Homo sapiens: one gene and its partners. The protein of the gene in region 3 purifies or fractionates together with the protein of the main gene of each other region. This does not show direct contact. Each region holds a gene or a part of one and is shown on either strand. Other genes may lie near its edges. The genes, in order: QPCTL, ZNF587B, SPDYE4, CDK16, RSU1, RPS10-NUDT3 and ERCC6L.

What was found.
Region 1: the proteins of SPDYE4 (region 3) and QPCTL purify together in Homo sapiens (affinity purification with mass spectrometry; one large-scale study listed by BioGRID and IntAct). This does not show direct contact.
Region 2: the proteins of SPDYE4 (region 3) and ZNF587B purify together in Homo sapiens (affinity purification with mass spectrometry; one large-scale study listed by BioGRID and IntAct). This does not show direct contact.
Region 4: the proteins of SPDYE4 (region 3) and CDK16 purify together in Homo sapiens (affinity purification with mass spectrometry; one large-scale study listed by BioGRID and IntAct). This does not show direct contact.
Region 5: the proteins of SPDYE4 (region 3) and RSU1 purify together in Homo sapiens (affinity purification with mass spectrometry; one large-scale study listed by BioGRID and IntAct). This does not show direct contact.
Region 6: the proteins of SPDYE4 (region 3) and RPS10-NUDT3 purify together in Homo sapiens (affinity purification with mass spectrometry, with the first as the bait; one large-scale study listed by BioGRID). This does not show direct contact.
Region 7: the proteins of SPDYE4 (region 3) and ERCC6L purify together in Homo sapiens (affinity purification with mass spectrometry; one large-scale study listed by BioGRID and IntAct). This does not show direct contact.

Annotation. Positions count from the first base shown.
Region 1 is NC_000019.10:45,699,166-45,702,665, forward strand, and holds part of QPCTL (glutaminyl-peptide cyclotransferase-like protein), read left to right. Parts: intron 1-2,632; coding exon 2,633-2,749; intron 2,750-3,500. UniProt on the Homo sapiens protein: Responsible for the biosynthesis of pyroglutamyl peptides.
Region 2 is NC_000019.10:57,828,841-57,833,098, reverse strand, and holds the start of ZNF587B (zinc finger protein 587B), read right to left. Parts: upstream 2,801-4,258; 5' UTR 2,571-2,800; coding exon 2,535-2,570; intron 1-2,534. UniProt on the Homo sapiens protein: May be involved in transcriptional regulation.
Region 3 is NC_000017.11:8,750,353-8,752,949, reverse strand, and holds the end of SPDYE4 (speedy protein E4), read left to right. Parts: intron 1-712; 3' UTR 713-2,097; downstream 2,098-2,597.
Region 4 is NC_000023.11:47,225,181-47,228,680, reverse strand, and holds part of CDK16 (cyclin-dependent kinase 16), read right to left. Parts: intron 2,910-3,500; coding exon 2,815-2,909; intron 2,717-2,814; coding exon 2,654-2,716; intron 2,403-2,653; coding exon 2,279-2,402; intron 2,099-2,278; coding exon 1,978-2,098; intron 1,870-1,977; coding exon 1,772-1,869; intron 1,688-1,771; coding exon 1,582-1,687; intron 1,501-1,581; coding exon 1,458-1,500; intron 1,303-1,457; coding exon 1,212-1,302; intron 115-1,211; coding exon 37-114; intron 1-36. UniProt on the Homo sapiens protein: Protein kinase that plays a role in vesicle-mediated transport processes and exocytosis. Regulates GH1 release by brain neurons. Phosphorylates NSF, and thereby regulates NSF oligomerization. Required for normal spermatogenesis.
Region 5 is NC_000010.11:16,751,425-16,754,924, forward strand, and holds part of RSU1 (ras suppressor protein 1), read right to left. Parts: coding exon 3,447-3,500; intron 1,577-3,446; coding exon 1,494-1,576; intron 1,230-1,493; coding exon 1,115-1,229; intron 1-1,114. UniProt on the Homo sapiens protein: Potentially plays a role in the Ras signal transduction pathway. Capable of suppressing v-Ras transformation in vitro.
Region 6 is NC_000006.12:34,286,694-34,290,069, forward strand, and holds the end of RPS10-NUDT3 (RPS10-NUDT3 protein), read right to left. Parts: intron 2,239-3,376; coding exon 2,060-2,238; 3' UTR 501-2,059; downstream 1-500. Other genes in the region: NUDT3 (diphosphoinositol polyphosphate phosphohydrolase 1), read right to left, coding at 2,060-2,238.
Region 7 is NC_000023.11:72,204,165-72,208,027, forward strand, and holds the end of ERCC6L (DNA excision repair protein ERCC-6-like), read right to left. Parts: coding exon 850-3,863; 3' UTR 501-849; downstream 1-500. UniProt on the Homo sapiens protein: DNA helicase that acts as a tension sensor that associates with catenated DNA which is stretched under tension until it is resolved during anaphase. Functions as ATP-dependent DNA translocase. Can promote Holliday junction branch migration (in vitro).

The DNA of each region.
Region 1 (3,500 bases), on a different chromosome or scaffold from region 3:
TGGGACTACAGGCGCATGCCACCATGCCCAGCTAATTTTTGTATTTTAGTAGAGACAGAGTTTCACTATGTTGGCCAAGCTGGTCTTGAACTCCTGACCTCGTGATCCGTCCACCTCAGCCTCCCAAAGTGCTGGGATTACAGGCGTGAGCCACCGTGCCTGGTGACCCCATCTCTTAAAAAAAAATTAGCTGGGTGCAGTGGCATGCACCTGTCATCCCAGCTACTGGGGAGTATCCTTAGAGCCTGGGAGGTCAAGGCTATAGTGAGCCAAGATTGCGCCACTGCACTCCAGCCTGGGCAACAGAATGAGATCCTGTCTCAAAAAAATAAAAAATAAAAATAAAATAAAGGCTGGGCTTGGTGGCTCACACCTGTAATCCCAGCACTTTGAGAGGCAGGTGGATCACTTGAGCTCAGGAGTTTCAGACCAGCTTGGGCAATATGGCGAAACCCTGTCTCTACAAAATAAAAACAAACATTAGGCCAGGCGCGATGGCTCACACCTGTAATCCCAGCACTTTGGGAGGCCAAAGCGGGTGGATCACCTGAGGTTAGGAGTTTGAGACCAGCCTGGCCAACAGGGCGAAACCCCATCTCTACTAAAAATACAAAAAGTTAGCTGGGCGTGGTGACATGTGCCTGTAATCCTAGCTATTCGGGAGGCTGAAGCAGGAGAATGGCTTGAACCTGGGAGGCGGAGGTTGCAGTGAGCCGAGATCACGCCACTGCACTCCAGCCTGGGCAACAGAGCGAGACTCCATCTCAAAAAAAAAAAAAAAAAAAATTAGCCAGGCATGGTGGCACCTGCCTGCAGTCCCAGTGACTTGGGAGGCTGAAGTGGTAGGATCACTTGAGTCTGGGAGGTCGAGGCTGCAGTAAGCTGTGATCACACCACTGCACTCCAGCCTGGGGACAGAGTGAGACTCTGTCTCAAAAAAAAGTAATAATAAAAATTAAAATTAAAAAAATTAAAAATTGTTTTTAAAAATAAAGGCTTGGCTGGGCGCAATGGTTCACGCCTGTAATCCCAATACTTTGGGAGACTAAGGTAGGTGGATCACAAGGTCAGGAGTTTGAGACCAGCCTGGCGAATATGGTAAAACCCTATCTCTACTAAAAATACAAAAATTAGCTGGGTGTGGTAGCGTGTGCCTGTAGTCCTAGCTACTCCGGAGGCTCAGGCAGAAGAATCGCTTGTACCTGGGAGCACAGGTTGCAGTGAGCTGAAATTGTGCCACTGCACTCCAGCCTGGGTGACAGAGCGAGACTCTGTCACTAAATAAATAAATAAATAAACAAATAAATAAATAAGAAAATAAAATAAAGGCTCACCCAGCCTTTCCTCTACCTCCCTAGCCTTTCTAAGGAACTAGAGATTAGTAATAGTGATTACCAGACAGGGGCTCTAAGGTGAGACAGCCGTGGTTTCCAATCTTACCAGCTGGATGAACTTGGACAAGTGGCTTCATTTCTTTGAGCCTCAGTTTCCTATCTGTAAAACGGCCAGTGGGGGCCGGGCCTGGTGGCTCATGCCTGTAATCCCAGCACTTTGGGAGGCCGAGGTGGGCGAATCACAAGGTCAGCAGTTCGAGACCAGCTTGGCCAATATGGTGAAACCCCATCTCTACTAATAATACACAAATTAGCTGGGTGTGGTGGTGGGCGCCTGTACTCCCAGCTACTCAGGAGGCTGAGGCAGGAGAATTGCTTGAACCCGGGAGGCGGAGGTTGCAGTGAGCCGAGATTGTGCTACTGCACTCCAGCCTGGCGACAGAGCAAGACTCTGTCTCAAAAAAAAAAAAAAAAAAAAGGCCGGAGGGCCCAGACATAGTGGCTCATGCCTGTAGTCCCAGAAATTTGAGTGACCAAGGCAGGAAGATCACATGAACCCAGAAGTTTGAGGCCAGCCCGGGCAACACAGGAAGATCCCATTTCTACACACACGCGCACACACACACACACACACAATTACCCAGGCATGGGGGCATGCGCCTGAAGTCCTAGCTATTTGGGAGGCTGAGACTGAAGGATCACTTAGGCCAGCGAGATTAAGGCTGCACTGAGCTGGGATTGTCCCACTGCACTCCAGTGTGGGTGAGAGAGCAAGATCTTTTTTTTTTTTTTTGGAGACAGAATCTTACTCTGTCACCCAGGCTGGAGTGCAGTGGTGCAATCTCAGCTCACTGCAACCTCCACCTCCCAGGTTCAAGCAATTCTCCTGCCTCAGCCTCCCAAGTAGCTGGGATTACAGGCGCCCACCACCACACCCAGCTAATTTTTGTATTTTTAGTAGAGACAGGGTTTCACCATGTTGGCCAAGCTGGTTTCGAACTCCTGACCTCAGGTGATCCACCTGCCTTGGTCTCCCTAAGTGCTGGGATTACAGGCATGAGCCACCACACCAGGCCACAAGATCTTGTCTCAAAAAAAAGAATGTCTATGTCTTAGACTCTGAGGGATTGAATGAGACCAGGAACATAGTGAGCCCACAGGAAGGAGTAACTGGCATTCACTCTTGTTGGGCTGACCAGGGCTTTGTCTCTGGGTGCTCTGCCTTCCTCTGATTTGTGGACTGGGGACCTTCGACTACTAAGGACTAACCCTTCCTCTCTAATCGCCCCCACTTCCAGAGAAGCGTCTGCACCGTTTGAACCTGCTGCAGTCTCATCCCCAGGAAGTGATGTACTTCCAACCCGGGGAGCCCTTTGGCTCTGTGGAAGACGACCACATCCCCTTCCTCCGCAGAGGTACCAGCTGCAGGGAGGGATGGAGGGTGGGTGTCCAAGGAAGCCACAAATTGGAACTGGCCAAGTCCCCTTCCCAGGGCTGGGGAATGGTGCTAAGTGGCCTTAACCTCTTTGTGCTTTGATTTATTCATCTGTAAAATGGGGATAATACTCCCTATCTTAGAGTATTGTTGAGGGGATTGAACATGCTAACACCGGTAAAGACCTTACTTGGACCAGCACCCAGCACATAGCAAGCATTCCAGAAATGTTTGCAGCTGGGCACGGTGGTTCACAGCTGTAATCCCAGCACTTTGGGAGGCTGAGCGGGGTGGCGGGGGGGGATCCTTGAGCCCAGGAGTTTGAAACCAGCCTGGGCAACATGGCATAAATCTTGTCTTTACTAAAAATACAAAAAAATTAGCCGGGCATGGTGGTTCACACCTATAGTCCCAGCTACTCGAGAGGCTGAAGTGGGAGGAGCACTTGGGCCTGGGAAGTCAAGGCTGCAGTAAGCCTTGATTGAGCCACTGCACTCTAGCCTGGACAACAGAGGGTGATGATATCTCAAAAAAAAAAAAAGTGCCAGGCTGGGCATGGTGGCTCACACCTGTAATCCTAGCACGTTGGGAGCCTGAGGCGGGCAGATCACCTGAGGTCAGTAGTTTGAGACCAGCCTGGCCAACATGATGAAACCCCATCTCTACTAAAAATACAAAAATTAGACAGGTGTCGTGGTGCCTGCCTATAATCCCAGCTACCCGGGAGGCTA
Region 2 (4,258 bases), on a different chromosome or scaffold from region 3:
TGCCACCTGCTGACTGTACAGGGCTAGGGCCTTGAGGGAACACAGGCGATAGCCATGTAGTGGTCACAGGAGCCTTGGGTGAAACCCAGTGCTGTGCTGGCTTCAGCTCTCACCCAGCACAGTCCCAGTGGTGGTAGCTAAAGGGGTGCTTCTGTCCCAACCCCCAGTTTCAGGCACTTCAGCACTGACAGAGACATGCTGGGACAAAGTGAGGGAAGACCCAACAAGAGTCTCTACCTGTTATGTTAATCAAGGGAAATCTTTCAGATCTTATTCAAGACCACAAAGGTGGTACAGCTCTCTGAGTCTGCAAGAGTCACAGCATTACTGAGTGTGGGGTTCCCGCTAAAGTAGATTCAGCTTAGATCACAACACCCGGGTCCTTTCAAATACCTGGAAACTCTTCCTAAGAAGGACAGGTACAAATGAGCCCAGACTGTGAAGACCACAATAAACACCTAACTGTTTAATGCCCAGACACTGACGAATATCTACAAGCATCAACACCATCCAGGAAAACGTGACCTCACCAAACAAACTAAATAAAGCACCAAAGACGAATCCTGGAGAAACAGAGATACGTGACCTTTCAGACAGATAATTCAAGATAGCTATTTTGAGGAAATTCAAAGAAATTCAAGACAAACACGGAGAAAAAATTCAGAATTCTATCAGATAAATTCAGCAAAGAAATTAAAATAATTAAATAGAATTGGCCGGGCACAGTGGCTCACGCCTGTAATCCCAACACTTTGGGAGGCCAAGGCGGGCGGATCACAATGTCAAGAGATTGAGACCATTCTGGCCAACATGGCGGAACCCCGTCTCTACTACAAATGCAAAAATAAGCCGGGCATAGTAGTGCATGCCTGTAGTCCCAGCTACTCGGGAGGCTGAGGCAGGAGAATGGCATGAACCCGGGAGGTGGAGCTTGCAGTGAGCCGAGATCGTGCCACTGCGCTCCAGTCTGGGCGATAGAGCGAGACTCTGTCTCAAAAAAAAACAAAAAGAAAAAGACAATTTGTATTTCACAGGGCACTCTGCTATAAAGGGTAAGATGTTTTGTTTAGTAAACAAATAAAAAAATAAAGACAGCCAGGCACGGTGGCTCACGTCTGTAATCCCAGCACTTTCGGAGGCCGAGGCGAGCGTATTGCCTGAGCTCGGGAGTTCGAAACCAGGCTAGGCAACATGGCGAAACCCCGTCTCTACTAAAAATACAAAAAATTAGCCGGGCATGGTGGCGGGTGTCTGTAATCCCAGCTACTTGGGAGGCTGAAGCAGGAGAATCGCTTGAACCCGGCAGGCGGAGGTTGCAGTGAGCCGAGATCACGCCACTGTACTCCAGGCTGGGTGACAGACTGAGACTCTGTCTCAAAAAAAAAAAAAATAAATAAATAAAATAAGCTGGGCTCGGTGGCTCGCGCCTGTAACCCCAGCACTTTGGGAGGCCGAGGCAGGTGAATCACCTGAGATCAGGTGTTCGAGACCAGCCTGACCTACATGGAGAAACTCCATCTCTACTAAACATACAAAAAATTAGCCAGGTGCAGTGGCGCATGCCTGTAATGACACCTACTCGGGAGGCTGAGGCAGGAGAATCGCTTGAACCCAGGAGGCGGAGATTGCGGTGAGCCGAGATCACGCCATTGCATCCAGCCTGGGCAACAAGAGTGAAACTCCGTCTCAAAAAAATAAAAAATAAAGACTGCATCTAACGAGGTAAGGTCACCAACGAGCACACTGTTCCACTATCAGTTCTCACTAGAGGATTCTGTGATGTAATGCCCAACCTTGTTTTTACTAACCCTGTTTTTAGATTCTCCCTTTCCTTTAATCACCTAGACTTGTTTCCACCTGAATTGACTCTCCCTTACATAAGAGAGCCAGACAGACTCCATCTTGGCTCTTTCACTGGCAGCCCCTTCCTCAAGGACTTAACTTGTGCAAGCTGACTCCCAGCACATCCAAGAATGCAATTAACTGATAAGATACTGTGGCGAGCTATATCCGCAGTTCCCAGGAATTCGTCTGATTGATAACGCCCAAAGCCCCCCATCTATCACCTTCTAATAGTCTTAAAGCCCCTGCACCTGGAACTGTTTACTTTCCTGTAACCATTTATCCTTTTAACTTTTCTTGCCTACTTTACTTCTGTAAAATTGTTTTAACTAGACCCCCCCTCCCCTTTCTAAACCAAAGTATAAAAGAAAATCTAGCCCCTTCTTTGGGGCCGCGAGAACTTTGAGCGTTACCCATCTCTTGGCCGCCGGCTAAATAAACGGATTTTTTTTTAAATAAACGGACTCTTAATTCGTCTCAAAGTGTGGCGTTTTCTCTAACTCGCTCAGGTACAGTGACTATAAAAGATTAGGCCTTCAGCAGCTCAAAAGGGCTGTCCTGACAGTCACTCCTAATAAAAACTCAGCATCTGCTGCCTATGGCTCTGCCACCTTAAAGACTCTTCCTTGCAAGACTACAGGCTTTTGGGTGATGATGAGGTGACCTGAGGGCATGGAAGGCACCACAATTACCTGAGCAGAGAGCCTCAGCGTGGCCACCACCGCCATCGAACCACGTGGTTTAAAGCAGGGTTGGGAGGAGAGGGTGACCAGCCAGGAGATATGGGCATGACGGTCCCTATCCTGGCCCAGGGGTGGGTCACGCTTGGCGCCGTCACAGAGCTCCAGAGTCGCCTCTGTGCAGCAGAGGACAACTGTTCTCCGCCTTCTGGGTTCAGTCACCGCAGTGCCGACCTAGCGCTCAGGAGCCTCTCCGACAAATAAACCCAACACCAATCAAAATGGCCGCCACCAGAGGGCGCCGGAAGTCCGGACCCATTGTCACGTGCACACAGGAAATGCCTTTATTCTGAGCCCCCATGGCTCTTCCACTCTGTCATTCCATGCGGAGTTTTCTGGGTAATGTAGTTCCCTAGGTAACAAGGAGGGTAAAGGGCACAATTCCCAGAGGCGGTTCTGCAGGAAAAGCCCAGCTCCACCTCAGGAGTATCCTTAAGATATGCGCCCTGACTGGTATGGTGGCTAGCTCCTGTAATTCCACCAGTTTGGGAGGCCAAGTCAGAAGGATCATTTGAGGCCAAGAGTTAGAGATTAGCCTGAGCAACAAAGCAAAATCCTGTTTGAAGGGGGCCTGCCCCTCCATACCTATGGGTATCTCTCATCAGGTGGAGACGAGAGACTGAGAAAAGAAATTAGACACAGAGAAAAAGTATAGAGAAAGAATAGTGGGCCCAGGGGACTGGCACATTCAGCATGTGAGGACCTTCACCGGCGCCGGTCTCTGAGTTCCCTCAGTATTTATTGATCATTATTTTTACTCTCTTGGTGAGGGGAGTGTGGCAGGGCAACAGGGTGATGGTGGGGAGAAGGTCAGCAGGGAAACACGTGAGCAAAGGAATCTGTATCATGAATAAGTTCAATGAAAGGTACTGTGCGTGGATGTGCACATAGGCCAGATTTATGTTTCACTTTAAACAAACATCTCAGTGTAGCAAAGAGCAACAGAGCAGTATTGCTGCCAGCATATCTCGCTTCTAGCCACAGGGTAGTTTTCTCCTATTTCAGAATACAACGAATGGGAATGGTTGGCTTTACACCATGACATTCCATTCCCAGGAATGAGCAGGAGACAGAAGCCTTACTCTTATCTCAACTGCAAAGAGGCCTCCCTCTTTCACTCCTCCTCCTCAGCACAGACCCTTTAAGGGTGTCCGGCTGGGGGATGTAAGGTCTTTCCTTTCCCATGAGGCCATATCTCAGGCTGTCTCAGTGGGGGAAACCTTGGACAATACCCAGGCTTTCTCAGGCAGAGGTCCCTGCAGCTTTCCGCAGTGCATTGTGTCCCTGGTTAATAGAGAATGGAGAATGGCGATGACTTTTACCAAGCATACTGCCTGCAAACATATTGTTAACAAGGCACATGCTGCACAGCCCTAAATCCATTAAACCTTGATTCAATACAGTACGTTTCTGTGAGCACAGGGTTGGGGCTAAAGTTACAGATTAACAGCATCTCAAAGCAGAACAATTTTTCTTAATACAGATCAAAATGGAGTTTCTTATGGCTTCCTTTTCTACATAGACACAGTAACAATCTGATTTCTTTTCCCCATATCCTGTCTCTGCAAAAAATAAAAAATATTAGTGGGGTGAGGTCAGGCAGGCCAGTGGTCCCAGCTGCCCCAAGGTTGGGGTTAGGGTTAGGGAGCCTGAAGGAGGGAGAATCGCTTGAGCTC
Region 3 (2,597 bases):
TGGTGGGCGCCTCTAGTCCCCACTACTCAGGAGCCTGAGGCGGAAGGAACACCAGAGCCCCGGAGGTCGGGGCTGCAGTGAGCTGTGATTCTGCCACTGCACTCCAGCCGGGACGACAGAGTGACACTCTTTCTCAAAAATGAGAATACTACCTAGGTCCAGGGAGGTTCATTATGGTTGATACACTTGAGTTACTGATTTGAGGAAAGGATTCAGTGAAGATTTGGTTGACATCTTGTGCAGCTAACCACATTTAGGACCAAGCATTAGACTAAAACATGAGAGATTAAGGTTGGGGATTAGGAATCTGGTCTGCTGGTTCCTGAGGTTGTCGTGTTAGACATGTTTGTAGCATGGTTAAAAGTTTAGATCTTAAGCAATATAAAGGGCCCCAAGTGTGATGAAGTCCAAAGCCACGTCCTCCAAGGGTGCTCTACTCCCTGGGTGGAGCCACCCAAAGTCCTTGCTATGAAGCAGATCACTGGGGCTAACCTTGGGTATATTAAGTGATTTTTGGAGTCAAGCTCACCAAAGTGTGAGTACCAGAATCAAAAATGATGGTTCAGAATCAGGGTTTACAATAAAGGGTTAGAGATAAAATCAGATTTATATATTGCTCTGAACTCTAGTTAGGATTGATGTGGGATGGGAATAACCTTCCTATCTAGAGATCTCCCTCCTTGAAGTGTGACATCCTCTCTCTCACTTCCAGAACACTGGGCCCAGGGGAGATGGGAATTTTCAGCAGGAAGTTTATCGCGACGCTAATGCCAGACACCAGGAAGGGAGAGAGGAGCCTCCTGTGCAGATCATCTAGAAGAAGCTGGACTCTTCTAGAAGGGGCAAAATAGATTGACCAGGTTTTCCTCCTAGGAGCCATGGAGGTATTTCTAGGAGTCAGTGGAGGGAAAGTGAGAAACCAGGGGTGTTTCTGGTTCCACCCCTTCCTGCGGCAAAACCTCCCTTTTCACGTTGCTGAATCCCAGCCTCCCCTGGGCTGGAAGCTGGAGTTCCTGTTTCCTATGGACTTGGTTGCCACAGTCCAGAGCATTTGAAGGCACAGCGCAGGCACTCAGATTGTTACGGAATTCTTTGTAAAATATGAAATTACTGCCATAGGATTTTAAGAGATAGTTTAATAGATACTGTACATTTTGTTGGTTTATTTTTCAAATGTTGGCCATAGAATTATTACTAGGTTGATTTAAAATAGTTTGGGGTTTTTGTAGTTTTGAAAACATGCTGTTCCTATAGAGTTCTCTGACGGTTGTTATATACACATAAATATAATTTAGTTTTCATTTTTAAGAGAGGATTCTTTTTATCGTAAATGTTTTCTCTTTAAATCGTTTTATCTATTATTAAATGTGCTCCTGAAGCGAGCACTCTTGTAATCTATGATACTGACCTAATATATCCATTATATTTATAGCTAGGTGGTAGTTCCCCTACATTCTTGCAAATAGAAATGTTTATTTTCTGTTTACTGTTTGTTACTGAATTGTGAGAATTCAGTTGTGATTTTTAACATGCCTTCCATATATACTAACATGTCCAATATATACTATACATTTTATTTGTTTATTTTGAAAATGATGGGCATGGCATTATTACTACATTTATTTAACTAGTTTAGAAATACAAGTATTTTTTAAAAGACACTGTTCTTATGAAGTTGTGTGATGGGTGTTACACCTGTTATATACACATAGATATAATTCTGTTTTCATTTTTAAGAGAGGATTCTTTTTATCCTAAATGTTTTATTTTTAAATCTTTTTATCTGTTATTACATGTGCTGCTGAAGGGAGCACTGTTATGACCTAGAGTAGTTACATAATATATCTATTCTATTTATAGCTAGGTGGCATTTCCCCGAAATTCTTGTAAAAATAAATTTTTATTTGATGTTGAGTGTTTGTTTGTTATTGAACTGTGAGAATTCAGACGTAATTTTTTAGCTTGTATTGAAAGGTTTGTATGTTACTTTAAAGAGGACATGTGTTTGAAAGGAGGACAGGAGCTGTGTGTTTCAAAGAGGACAGTGCACTGCGCTACCTGGGAAAATGCAATAAAGATGAAGTTTTCTCATCTTCACAACGACTGTGACCATATTGGTCTGGATTGCTTATTTGTTGTCCAATGACATTTTTGTTTAATGCGGTTTTAGTTATTTGAACAAATCTATTAACCCTGGAAAATAATGCTGAATCTTTTTGTTTGTTTGTTTGTTTGTTTTTGAGATGGAGTCTTGCTCTGTCACCCAGGCTGGAGTGCAGTGGCGCAATCTCAGCTCACTGCAAGCTCCACCTCCTGTGTTCACGCCATTCTCCTGCCTCAGCCTCCCAAGTAGCTGGGACTACAGGCACAGGCCACCATGCTCGGCTAATTTTTTGTATTTTTAGCAGAAACGGGGTTTCACCGTGTTAGTCAGGATGGTCTTGATCTCCCGACCTCGTGAGCCATCCGCCTCGGCCTCCCAAAGTGCTGGGATTACAGGCGTAAGCCACCTCCCCTGGCCCTTTATTTTATTTTATTTTATTTATTTATTTATTTATTTGAGACAAGGATCTTGTCCCATTCCCCAGGCTGAAATG
Region 4 (3,500 bases), on a different chromosome or scaffold from region 3:
GGTGGGGCAGGGAGGAAGACAAGGGGCTATACCTACCTGAGTCAGGCATCGACGAAGACCGAAGGCTGGCCTCCTTTTGTAGCTGAATCTCCTTTAGTGCAAATATGGAAGTAGCTACAGATGGGGGAGACATAGAAGTGGGGGATGACCCATGAGGTCATCTAGGACCAGCCCCATATGACCCCATGGGAAGAATTAGAAAAAGCTGCCCCTTCTCTGAGAGGCTTGACCTTTATCTGTCAAACAATTCCATACACAAACCAGCTACAACCAGGGAAGATGAAATATAGACTATTACATGACACAAAGAAATCATTATTAACTTTGTCAAGTGAATTATGGTATTGCAATTACCACCTGTTAAGTCTAGGTGATGGGTGGTGTTTGGGGTTTGCTTTATATATTAATCCAGTGGGAAGATAGGGAAAGTGAGCAAATGTTTTTTGTAGGTTTGATAATAATATTGTTGTTTTAAAAAAATCTTTTATAGGTATATGCTGAAATTATTTAAGGATAAATGCTATGATGTCTGGGATTGGATGTGATTCAAAATAATCAGAGAGAATATAGATAAAACCAGATTGACCATGAATTGATGACTCACTGGAGTACTTAGGGACTCATCATATTACTTTGACTAATATATAAATACATATATTTGAAAATATCCATATTAAAAAGTTTTTAAAAGCCAGATATAAAAAGAACATCACATGTGATTCTATTTCTATAAAGTACAAGGACAGAAAAAACTTATCCTTGCTGTTAGAGGTCAAAACAGTGGCCACCCTTTGGGAAGGGGCTGGGAATAACTGAAGGAGATGCAAGGGAGCTGGGGGTGGGGAGCTTTTAACATTCTGTTTCTTGACTTTTGTGCTAGTTACAAGGATGTGTTTCATTTATGAAAATTCATTGTATAGTATACTTATGATTTGTGCATTTTTTAGCACATGTAAGGAAATGTCTACTTTAAAAAAAGTAAAGTGCTATTGCATATATTTTTATGTATGTTTTAAATTTTTCATGAAAGGTAAAAGGAACTGAAAACTAAAAAATGTTTTCATAACAAATACAACCCATCACACACGTGAACAAGATGTCCCCCCACGTAGAGGTGGCACAGCCAGAATCCTACACAACCCGCCAGCTGGCCCCAGCAGTCCTGTTTCCCAGTCCCCACGCTGGCCGGTCCATTCCCCAGCTCCACTCACTGTCAGGAAGTTTGTGGATCCGCTCCCCCAGACTGAGGAAGAATGGATGTTTCATGGCATCCTCTGCGGAGATCCGATTTCGACCCTCAAACTGAGTGGGGGTGCGGGGAGGGGGATAGTATTGATATCTTCAACAAGTAGGTCTCTCTGCCCACCTCAGACCCTGCCCCTGGTTTGAGGGGGGGGGTCCCTGTTTCCCCACACTTGGAATCCCATACCCCCAAGGCTGACCCAAGGTGGTCTCACCTGCAACAGCTTGGTGAGGAGGTCGGCCCCGTCGCTATCAAGTCTGCCACAAGGACAAAGAGACCTGATTTAAAATGAGTTTGGACACTCTGGCCCCTAACGCCCACCCACCCACCAGCCTCACCGGGGTGCGTGGCTCAAAAGGGCCTCGGCTCGGTACTTGGGGTAGTTGTATGTCTTGAACTCCTCGTTGGACAGGATGCCTGGCCACGTCTCCTCAGTTGGGGTTCCTAGTAGGGAAGAGGAGTTATCCCAAACATTTCACAGGTCCTCCCCGTGTGTCTCCACAGCGCCTAGGGCCCATGCCTCCTCACCTAAGATACGGAAGATGAAGTGTAGCTGTTCCTCCACCGTGGAGCCCGGAAAGAGGGGACGGCCTGTGGCCATCTCATAGAAGATGCAGCCCACACCCCTGGGCAGGGAGGGCACAGTGAATAGAAAGGCAGCTGGCTGGGTGGCTGTTGTGACCAAGCCACCCCCTTTACCACATGGCCCCTGCCACACTTCCACCTGTCCTTACCACATGTCAATCTGAGTGGAGTAGTCCGTGGACCCAAGCAGGATGTCAGGGGGCCGGTACCACAGTGTCACCACCTCATTGGAGTATGTCTTTGTTGGGATTGACTTGGCTCGGGCCAGGCCTGGAAATCAGAGAAAGGACAGCTAGAATGAGGGAGTCATGGGCAAAGTCTCGGGGAGAGTGCAGTTGAGACTGAGGGTGTCCTAGGCAAAATCTGGCAAGGCTGAAGGGAAGTGAGACTAAGTGGTCATGGGAAAGTAGGAGGCTGGGGAGCCAATAAGAAAGGGGAGGCCAGTGGTACCAAAGTCAGCCAGCTTGAGCTCTCCCCTCTCGTTGATGAGCAGGTTCTGGGGCTTGAGGTCTCGGTGTAGCACCTTCTGCCGGTGGCAGTAGGCCAGGCCACGGAGCAGCTGGAACAGGAACAGCTGGGGACCCAGGAATGGCAGGCAGAGGTCAAAGACTATCCACTAGCCCGACCCCCAGCAGGCACTGCTCCCCTCCCAAACACAGACACTAGGCCCAGAGCCTTGTCACACAAAAGAGGACAGGGTCCCAGTGCCCTCCAAGGGCTCCTAGCAAAAAAAGCCAAAGGGAAAAGTCCGTTTCTGGGAGATTTGTGGGTTGGAGTGGGTGAGTGGGGGCCCCCTTGTGCCCCTGCTTCCTGCCCCACACCCACTTTCACGTTGTGCATGTTGATGATGTTCCCACAGTCATCCAGGTACTGCTTCAGGTCCTTGTCCTGAGGAAAGAAGAGGTGGTACAGGAATGAGGGTTACTTCCTATGGCTCCTGGCCTTCTCCTCACCTCCCCCTGGGACCTACTGCCACTCAACCTTACCAGGTACTCAAAGACAAGGGTGAGGGACTTCTCCGTGTGGATAATGTCATGTAGCGTAACGATGTTGGCGTGTTTGAGGTCCTTGAGCAGGGACACTGCAGGAAGCATGGGAGTGGGACAGGGGAAGAGTCAGGGTCCTACCCTCAGGACAGAGGTGAGGACAAGGACTAGAAAGGGACAAGCCCAGGTTTTCTTTCTTTCTCTAGACAGTTCAGGGTAATGCCTCGGAGCCACCAGCTCTAACCCGCCTCATGCCAGAAGAAAGTTGTGTCTCCATGTTGCAGATGTGGAAAATAAGACTCAGAGGAGAGTATGGAGCAAGAACCTGGGATTGCAGCCCCAGGCTCATGTGACACTAGATTTTCACAACCTGTTTTTGGTTTCTGGGAAGGGGCCTGGCTCCAACCCTCAGTACATAGGCCTGCAGCATCGCGTGAAATCGAATTTGCACACTAAATTTCAGTGCAATTCAAATTCATTCCATGTGATATTCTGACTAGAAATTGTTACAGTAAATAAACTGGTGAGCACTTTCAGGGGTGTTCTCAGAACCAAACCCTGGTTTGCAATTCATCTACCTTTTATCCAAATGGGAACAGATTCCTGGTTACCCTGATTATTACCTGGATATGTGGGTGACAGGCATTCCCATGAAAGCCAGAGTGTTTTGGGGGGTCTTAGAACCA
Region 5 (3,500 bases), on a different chromosome or scaffold from region 3:
TTCCCTTTAGACTAATATGGCTGCCAACAGAACTCAAGGTGCTGATAGGCGTGCTCTGTGTCTCAGTCTTCCTATGCGTAACCATTAGCCACATGAGCCTGCTCATAACCTTCCTAACGTCCTGTCATCCAAGGTCCTTGCTTCATTAATTCATTCAGTCAGTGTTTTCTGAGCACCTACTGTACCCGAGGGAACAAATACAAAAATGTCCCTGCCCTCCTGGTGATTGCATTCTAATTTCTAACAAATGGCCTCTTCAAACTGCCAAACTTGTTTAAAGAACTGCTTCCTCAATGTGTTTCTTAAAAATGATGGTATTTTGGAGTAGAAAAGCAAATAATCGCAGTTTGAGAAAACAATGTGGTTCAAAGGACTGAAGAAATGAGAGGCTATGGAGGGTCTGCACAAGAAAAGATAAGGGAACTCGTGAACCTTTTGCAGTGGAACGAAGCAGTAACAGAATTACTGGCTTGGAGGTTATTTCTGGCGGGGGACATAAACCCACCCTGGAAATAGGAACGACCTGGCAGAGAAACAGGATTAGGATTCAGCGGCCAGGAGTAGGATCCATTCCCAGCAAGAACATATTTAACAATTCCTACTAGAGATGGGATCAGGAGAGAGGCAAATTCACGACCCGCAGAGGTATCAACATGTTCAAGTAGCCATAACAACTACTTTAACTATTTGGTAAAAGTTTTTCCAGGTCAATAAAAATTTAAGGGGTTAAAAAGTAAGAGTGATACTTAAAGTTATTAATAACCAACCAAGACCCAGAAAGCTTACCCAGCTAGTCAATGAGGAGCCAGGGATAAGGCTCTTACTACTAATCCCATGCTTTTCCCACTACATCACGCAGGGAGCTGAGCGGGGTCATCTTTCATCAGCAGTTTCTAAGACAGGGGACACTACAGCTGCAGAACACAGGATCCGGGAAGGTCAAACCTGTAACAGCTAACTCTGGTCAATGACAAATGGTTCTCAAATGATCAGCATCGTGTGCCTAGGTGGAGAGTAGTTGCCAAGAAGAGGACAGAGGTTGTTCAGAATTGCTACATTAGGATAATTGTTATTCATGAAACCCAGAACTAAGTTCATTCATCAGCAACCTTACCTAGTTCTGGGGGCAGAACGGTGAGGCGGTTCCCCTGAATGTGGAGCTCTTTAAGCTGGGTAAGCTCCCCGATTTCCTTAGGCAGCGAGATCAGGTCGTTATCCCTAAGGCTGAGCTAAACAGAAGAAAACAAGTTGTCAACATATTTACACATTAAAAGGTGCTCCACAGAAACTCTCATCCTCTATGTCCTCTCTTCTACTAAAGCTCAATCCTTTCCATGTATTTACAAGTGCCGGCGGATAATCAAGAAACACTATCAGGAGTAGTGGTTTATTCCCACAAAACAAACCTTACTCCTGCTCAAATTGACTTGATTCTACCCCTACAAGGCTGCAGCAGTGAATTGATTTTCTAAGAATTTAGATAAATTACTTACTATCTGCAACTTTGTGAGCTTCCCAATATCTGGCGGCAGGATTTCAAAATCGTTGTCACTTAGATAGAGTGCACGCAGGGTGGCTGCAAATTAAACAGCAATATATAAACAGGGTGGCATGGAACACAACCATTTGAGGTCTGATCAATACGAGGGAGTCAGCTTTGATTAATAACCCTGGCTTGGTGAAAAGCCTTTGACATACCTAGGGCTCCCAATAATAACAAGCAGGTCAAACTTAGATTTACTGGCTTATTGTGTAGCTGGTGTGTCCAGGAAAACATCTATATCCAAGAGGAATGACGCAATTAACAACTGTGGGCGCCAGCATTTTGGGGCACAGAGTTTCAGCACATTTTCAGAAAAGATTGCTATACTTCTCATAGATTACTTTTGATTCACATTTATTTCTCCATTTGCATCCAAAGTAAAACAAAGAACACTACTGTGCCACTTTTATGGATACCTAGGGCAAAAGGGTTCTTTCAAGAGAATACAGCTCTGTTAAAATAGACCTTTTCCTATGTAAATAGCACTGTGTTACAAATTAATGGAAGGCTTTCTGGTGATGGAGGCTATAACCACAGCTCATCAGTTCCATAATCTGACTAATTATTACTACGTGTTTCTACAGCCTTAAGGACAAAAGTAAATGAAGACAAAGAGGCTAAAATAATGACATGAAGTTAACAGAGTAAATCCTAACTTAAGGAGAATATCAGTAGTCAGAAATTTGTTCATAATTATTACACAATGATAATACGATTCCAACCTACTGAAGGCTAAAATTCTAAAGCATCTGTTTATCTTCAACCAAAAAAGCTGAGTATAATTAGATACATGTTTTGTTTACCCGTATTTATTTTTTAGAGACAGAGTCTCGCTCTGTCACCTAGGCTGGAGTGCAGTGGGTCACTGCAGCCTCAAACTCCTGGCCTCAAGCACTCTTTCTACCTCAGCCTCCCAAGTAGCTAAGATCACAGGCTCATGCTACTATGCCTGGCTACTTTTTAAATTTTTATTTCTAGAGACAGGGTCTCTCTATGTTGCCCAGGCTGGTCTTGAACTCCTAGCCTCAAGTGATCTTTGTAGCTCATACTCCCGAGAACTGCATGTTAATATAACATAATAAAAATAGTTGCTCCACTGCCCAAGAAAATATTTTATAGTTGGTTTCATGTGCTTGAGAAAGTCATAGAAAGGTAATGTACGTAAGGTAAAAAATAAAATTTTAGAGATCAGCTCTGAAAATTCAGATTTTCTGAATGCCACACAAGTTACTATTTGAAGAAATAGAACACTGATTTAAGGGAAGCAAACCTTGTCCAAAATAGTGCATGAGTTCCCAGAAGAAATCATTTTTTAATTTTCAAAAGCATCTCCAGCAAGAAATTTGTTTGCATATGAAAGAATAAAGTGTGTTCACCTGTGGCCAATAATTTCTTAATGCCTGTGTACTGGATAAATAGGTCAATAAGAGTACTTTTTAAAAGGCTCAAAATAGGAATACTGGCTGGAAAATTTTAAAATTGTGTTACTGGTTTATTAATAAATATTTTTAATAAATAATTGGTTGGAATATCCTGGGCAAATATCCTACAAAGAATTAATAGCAACATAGGAAGATACTTTTTTTTTTTTTTTTGGCATGCTATTTAAAAAGAAAGTCAAGTCTCTTAGCTAAATGTGAGGCTTGATCTCATTTAGGTATATAATCTCTCTCAGAATGTTAATATGACATTACTAAGTCCACTTCAGCCCAATGGTGTCACATAACGATCTATCAAATGCACATACTGCTGAGCTACGAAGGAATATTCAAAAGGAGTCTCTAAAGAAAAAATTATCTCTGTCCAATAATTTCTCTTGGAGTTTGGGTCCTGGCAAATAAATTTCCCTCTCAGAACGCAAAGTACAAGGTTGAGGAGATTTATAGAATTGAAAGTTTCTTACTCAGGTAGAAGAAGTTTCCAGGAAGAGAATTTTCGCTCAAGTTGTTGTACGTCA
Region 6 (3,376 bases), on a different chromosome or scaffold from region 3:
TGGTATCCCAAGAATATAACTGCTCTTTGGCTCTGTGTGTGAAGATTGGGGGAGAGGATGTAAACTAAGAGTATATAGCAAAAAAAAAAAAAAAAATTTTTTTTTTTTTTTTTTGAGATGGAGTTTCACTCTTATCACCCAGGCTGGACGACAGTGGTGCAATCTCGGCTCACTGCAACCTCTGCCTCCCAGGTTCAAGCGATTATCTCGCCTCAGCCTCCCAAGTAGCTGGGATTACAGGCGCCCACCTAATTTCTGCATTTTTAGTAGAGACGGGGTTTCACCATGTTGGTCAGGCTGGTCTCAAACTCCTGACCTCAGGTGATCCACCTGCCTCAGCCTCCCAAAGTGCTGGGATTACAGGTGTGAGCCACCGTGCCCAGTGAGTAGACAGCAAAATTTAAAGTTCACCAACTGATGTTCCCAAAAGTGCTGAACACTAAATGACACAGGGCTATGAGGTACATACATTTCTTTTAGTAGGAGGGAAAAGTAAAAGCTTTTCAAAGTTTGAGTGCTTTATTAGAATTTTTAAATGAGGCGAACTATGATTTTAATTTCACATCTTGGCTAAGGAGATGCCACTGGAGTACAGAGATAATCTCCTGTCTTAAGCCACGGATCAGTCAGTGTAGCCCTCCCTACCCCTCAATCTCAAGACCCTCTTACTTCCGAACTAAACAACACAATTGGCAAATGAAGCCAGCACGAAACTGTATCAAAAAACAAGAGAGTCTGCAGTGAGCCAGTGTATTATGTAACCACTGTAATAAGTGATTACGTGGCCTCCCATATGGACCTTTCATATCCTGGTGGGAGATGGGAGACCAATTTAATAGCTCTGAGCATGCTCCATGGTGCAATCACAAGTGCCATGCCAATACAAAGACAAGCAAGCAGGTGAATTTCCCTAGTGTACTTTTCAGGAACACGGTTACTCAGTTCAGGGACAGGACTACATTGATGCACCTGCAAAGTAAAGTTGGATGCTTCAGAGCACATGGATGATACCCAGGTCAGCACGGTGTAAGGCATATATGGACACAAAGAGAGGCCATTGTTGGCAATAAATAGCATTACGGAAAAGATTCCAAACCAGCAGAACAGAAATGGACCTGATGCTCCAGTTTTTTAGATAAGTAATCCCAAGAATCCAGTTCCAACTCTACTGTCAACATGTGGGGCAGAATTCAATTTCTATCATTGTTTTTACAGATCTGGGCTGAGGCCATTTGCTCCTTGCTTGGTTAAAAAAAAATAAAAAAATAAAAAAAGGTTTCTTCCTGTTTCTTTCTGGGCAGGGAAATACAGCTTAAAGAAGGAAAGGCCATGAGTCCTGGGAGCACTATGAAGGTAGCTAAACTCTTCCCATATCTACAGTCAATGACTGGGAAATAGAGAAAGGACAGGGCAACCTGCCCAGCCACTAGCATCGAAAACAAAAAGGTATGTTAATTGTGAGGCTCTCAATTCTAGAAATGCCCAAATTAAAAGAGAAAAAAACCTTGAAAAATTAAACAAATTTCTCTTTCTAGAAGTCATTTATTTACATATTATATGTCCGATATATAATGTGTAGATAAATGTATACTGCAGTGAAAGTGACCACTCTACTGAACTGTACAGCACATTATAGGACAAATTATTGGAAGTTTTCATCTCATACTGGTATCTTTTAATAAAAAAAAAAAATTAAAAATCAAAGAAAACGTCTGGCCAGGGCCAGGATAAGACAAACAGGAACACTTCAGAATCCAAGGCAGGGGAAGGCTGTTGGCCTCTCTTCAGAGGACTGCAGGGGTGGGAAGAGGGAGGGACAGATCATGCACAAAAGTACTTACAAATTACACACCCAACCCCCACCCTCAATAAAAACAGAAGAAAAAGCCCCATCACTTAACACCAAACAGCAACATTATCAATACACCCTTTCTTTGCTGCCCACCATGCCTTATTTGAAAGAGGAGGCCTGTGAGAAGTGGAAAGAGCCAGGGTGAGAGGGAAGATTTGCACTTCAGTCTAGTTTCCAATTTCCATTTCTCTTACAGGAAGTCTTCAGTCATCTGATGCCTGACATCGAGCTCTGAGCAGAAACCGAGTATGTGGTGGCCACGACTGGGGTGCCATTGTTGGCTGAGTAGCCTTGCCTCAATGTTTCAAAATATGATGCCTGCACGGGTTTGTGATACTGCAGCACTTTTATGGCGTCTTCTATTTTAAACCATTCCCTCTTCCTTCCTGTGGAGGCAGAGAGAAAAGAAACTAGTACAAGAGTAATAAGGTTTCTGAGCCTAGAACTTTTGAGAAAATATAGAAAACATTAAAGCAATGTTTCTTAACACTTTTTTTCCTTACAAAAATAACTCAAGCACACTTCATATGCTTCAAATATTATATCAATGTCTAATGCAGAAAGGTGAGAAACCTGAAAACCAAAGAGCTAAGAGTAATTGTGTAAAACCTGCCCTCCAGAGAGAACTACGGCTAGTGTTTTCCTCCTGCCCTCCTGCGTCTCTGAGCTTTCCTTGCTTGCACATACATAGGGATCAAAGCCCAGCAGCATCCCCATCTCCTGTAAAAACTGACATGAGGGCCGGATGAGGTGGCTCACGCCTACAATCCCAGCACTTTAGGAGGCTAAGGTGGGCGGATCGCTTGAGCCCAGGAGTTTGAGACTGGCCTGAGCAACATGGCAAAACTCTGTCTCTACAAAAAATACAAAAATTAGCTGGGCATGGTAGCATGTGCCTGTACTCCCAGCTACCCAGGAGGCTGAGGTGGGAGGATCACCTGAGCCCGGAAGGTCGCGGCTGCAGTGAGCTGTCATCGCGCCACTGCACTCCAGCAGGGTGACAGAGTGAGACCCTGTCCCAAGGGGGGAAAAATCAACACGAGCATCAGCTTCCAGAATTACTAGGATGGCTGGTTTGTAATCAGTAATTCATTTAAAAGTTTTCTTATAAGAGTGAATTTATCTACATAATAGAAAATATTTCTTAAAAGAAGTAAAAATAATCTCAATACAATCACACTTTTATTTTTCAGTCTATTTTCTTACTCTTTTCTAGTCCATGCTTTAAAATCCTTTATATTTTTTATCTTATAAAAGTAATAACTACCCATAATCTTATAAACCAGAAAAAACCACTCTCAATACCCTAGCACAACTGCCCTTTTTTCATATACTTGAAAAAGAAACAATCTTGAGACAACCAAAATTGGATCATGCTTTCAGGTACTCTGAATCCTGACCAGCTCTGCTAGAGTGTTATGGTCAGGAACAAGGACTCTGAAGCCAAAGTGCTGGGCTCCAATCACATAAATGGCTCCAATGAGCTGTGCAGCCTCAGGTAGCTGTGTTCCTGCTCCATTTTCC
Region 7 (3,863 bases), on a different chromosome or scaffold from region 3:
TTTCCATACACATAATGAGATATTTTGGAGATGGGATCCAAGTCTAAACATGAAATCCATTTATGTTTCATACACACATTATATACATAGTCTGAAGGTAATTTTATAATTACTTTTAACGATTTTGTGCATGAAACAAAGTTTGTGTATGTTGAACCATTTTATTACCCTTTGTAGGCAGGCTTGCATGGGAGAATCTGGGCCTGTGTGGAAAGGATATATAGTAGCTGAAGGGGTCTAACAGAATCTCTTTTCTCTTGGGGATGCTGAGTAAACAGTGTGTTATACACCTTCATTTTGACTGTGACATGTCACATGACATCAGGTATGGAACTTTCCTCACTTGTGGCATCATGTCAGCACTCAGAAATTTTCCCCATTTTGGATTGGATTAGGGATGCTCAACCTGTATTAAGCTGAAAGCATGAAACAGCATGTTCACAAGCATATCTTAAGATCTGCCAGTATCATCTCAGTGAAACAAAGTGGATGGAAAACACTTGAGAAAAGTAACTTTAATTTTCTTATCTGAACTGTTATATACAAAGATGATCACTTTCAGAGTAAAATTAAGAATGACCAGAATAATTTTACAAAACTTTCCAAGAAACAACACAGTTAAATTTATAGAATATGCCTAAAATATAAGAATATTCAAGTGAAGAAATATTAAGCTAGTGCTCAGAATACCAGACTATGGAGTGGGGGGCGTTGCAGGGCAGAAGTTGCTTTTTGAGATCTTTCTTGCCTTAAGCCTGAATGCTTCATGTTCCCAAAGAATCCAATTATGGGAACAAAAATTCCCTCATATTCAGTTTCACTTTAAAATACAATAAACAGGTTACATTCTCAATTGTTATTAAGTTGCTTATACAAACTTAAAGTCAAGAGCATAACTTCAGGATCTGCACTTTTTATGTCAAGCGCTTTAACTAAGCAGTTTAGGGCCTCCTGGATTTTTCCACACTCTTTTAGTTCTTTTCCACGCTTTACAAGAGTCTCATAGTCATTTGTAGCCTCTGCCGCCTTATCCTGGGGAGAACCAACCAACTGTTCACCAGACAAAGGCTCAGGGGCACCAAGAGAGGTCTCTTGAGCTAGAGCACTAGGCTTAGACGTCATTAACCAGCTGGACTTGTTTTCTGAAGACAGTGTTTCTCCGGAAGGATCCTCTTCTGTATACTTGGAGGCTTCGCCACTGCTTTCCTCCACCCCTTCTTCTGGATAATCTTCAGGACCCTTTGCTTCACTGCTGTCGTCAAGTCTTTCCTCCATGTCCTCCACGTGGTCTAAAACCATATTAATAAGAGACCTCCTAGAAGCCAGAGATCTTCTAGAGTTCATAGACTTATTTACACTACTGGGTATTTGAGATGAAAAGAACCTTCCTGGTGGACTGATGTCATTTTTGGGAGTTGAAGCATCAAATTGTTTCACAGATGAGAATTGAAAGAGAGATGTGTTGAATGGATTTATGCTTGAGGTATCTTTAAAAGAATCATCTTCATCTTCGCCATCTGAAACAATCCTTCTAGCTTTACTTCTGATTTTTGCTTTAACTACTACTTCTTCTGGTTCATCGTCTTTCTCAGAAAACTCCCAACTGAGACATGTTTTGCTATGCACAAACCCTGCTCTGGAATTAGGTGCAGAGCCACACAAGCTATTTTCTTTCTCAACATGCTCTAAAGACTGACTGGAAAAATTTTGTCTGTTGTCTGCTGAGTCTTCCAAGAAAAGATTGAAATCACATGCATACTGTGGTGAAGATGCTGAAGGTTCCTCTTCCAACTTGGCCTCACTTGCTTGAGCATCCTGCAGTGCACTATGGGATGCTGAAAGGTCATCAGCTATTTCAATAATGGATACATTTGATTCTGCATTTTGACTTTCATTTGTTATGGAAATAATGGGCCAAGGATTGCAATGACGTAAAATCTCATCATCCTTTAGTTGATCTAAATTTGGCCCAATATCAGCTTTGGTTGATTTGCTAAGTACATAATTAAAACTTTCCAGAGGATCCTCTTGCAGTGCCTCTTGCTTAGGCCCCTCTTGTAATGTCTCTTTTTGTACAGCTTCATTTTTAGTTGCAAAGCTTTTTTCCATTCCCAATGAAGAGTTAGTACAAAGTTCTTCTACACTTCCAAACCCCTTTGGTAAAGTAGCTATAGAGTCAGCACTACCTGTACCTTTACCATCTTGCAAGGTGGTAACATTCACCTTTATACTGGAGAGATCTTGTTTCTCACCCTCTTTGGGCAGATCATCAATGACTACACTTGCCATTTTGGAACTGATATCTTCTTCCTGAGTATGATGAGTACTTAGAAGAGGTGAAGGCTGAGGCTGTGGTTTATTCAATTTAGGGCATTTCTTCTTTGTTGAAGAAGGAAATACAGGTTCTCTTAGCCAGGCCCCCTCATTTCTAGTTCTTTGTTGTTCCATCAGGAACTCTTTATTTTGAGACTCGAATTCAACGAGGAATTGAGCTTTCTGAACCCTTTGTTGAATATAGTGAGATTCTTCTACCACATCAAGCTCTTCTTTAACAGACAGATCACATGTGTACATCAAATCATGGTCTGAGATTCCAGCTATCCCCAAAGACTGCAGGTAGGCAATATGTTCATCTAGTTTTATATCAGATTTCCTCTGAGCAGCATGCAAAGACTGAAGCTGCAGCTGGGTTACAGAGTTCTGAAGATCCTCGATTGTAAAGAGCTCTCTTAATTCTTGTTTACTAAAATATCGGAAAGGGTTCTTTTTTTCACCAGTAGTTTGTCTTATTAATGAGTCCTTGAAAACCTGTCTTCTGTATATTTTTTCCTCTACAGTCCCACAAGTGATTAGCCTATAAACCACAACATTCTCTTTTTGTCCAATTCGGTAAACTCTATCCACAGCTTGAGCATCAGTTGCAGGATTCCAGCTAGGGTCAAAAATGACCACTCTAGTTGCTGCAGTTAATGTTAAACCGACACCACCTACTTGAGTGGTAAGCAGAAAAACAGAGTAATCTTTATTTTGCTGGAATAAGTTAATTCTTTTTTCTCGTTCCAAAAGATGAGTAACTGTCCCATCGATTCGCAATGTCTTAAAGTGCCTATTCTTTAAGAGGCGTTCAATGATGTTTAGAATTTGCCTCGATTGAGAAAACACCAGAGTTTGATGTCCCTCATCTCGCAGCCTCTTAAGTAGGTCCATTAGGAATATCATTTTTCCAGATTCTTCCATCAATGTGTCATCAGTTACTTGATCAATATGGTCCACATCTGGGGAATCTTCCCCCTCATTTCCATCTTGAGCAGAGAATGTCCCAAGATTTAGCAAACAACAAGCCCGTGCAGACAGCAGCCTAGGATGATCACACAGCTTCTTTAAGACACCTAGCTCAGCCAAAGGTGAGCGCGTCTCCATTAGCAACTCCTTGATATGATCTAAAGACACAAATTTCCTGTATATTTCTTCTTGTAAAGGCACAAGTCGTATCCAAATAATTAAATCATTTTTCCTGGAAAGGGAAGGCATTTCACAAATGGCATCAACATCTGGATTCTTTTCATTAAGTCTGGCCTCTGGGTTGCTTGACTTTTTCTTCTGTACGTCTTCTTTAGTCCTCCTGAGAAAATAGGGTTTTATGATTGCCATTAAGTTTTCAGATATTTTAAATCCCAAGGCTTTTTCTCCTGGGGTAGCATCCTTCTCTCTTGCTCTAGTAATAGGATTTTCATACTCCATCTTAAAAGTTTTTAATGTTCCCAGCAGGGACCCTTGACAAGCAAAATCAAATAGGGACCATAGTTCTTGTAAATTATTCTGGATTGGGGTTCCTGTGAGGAGGAGGCGATTACTTGCAGGAA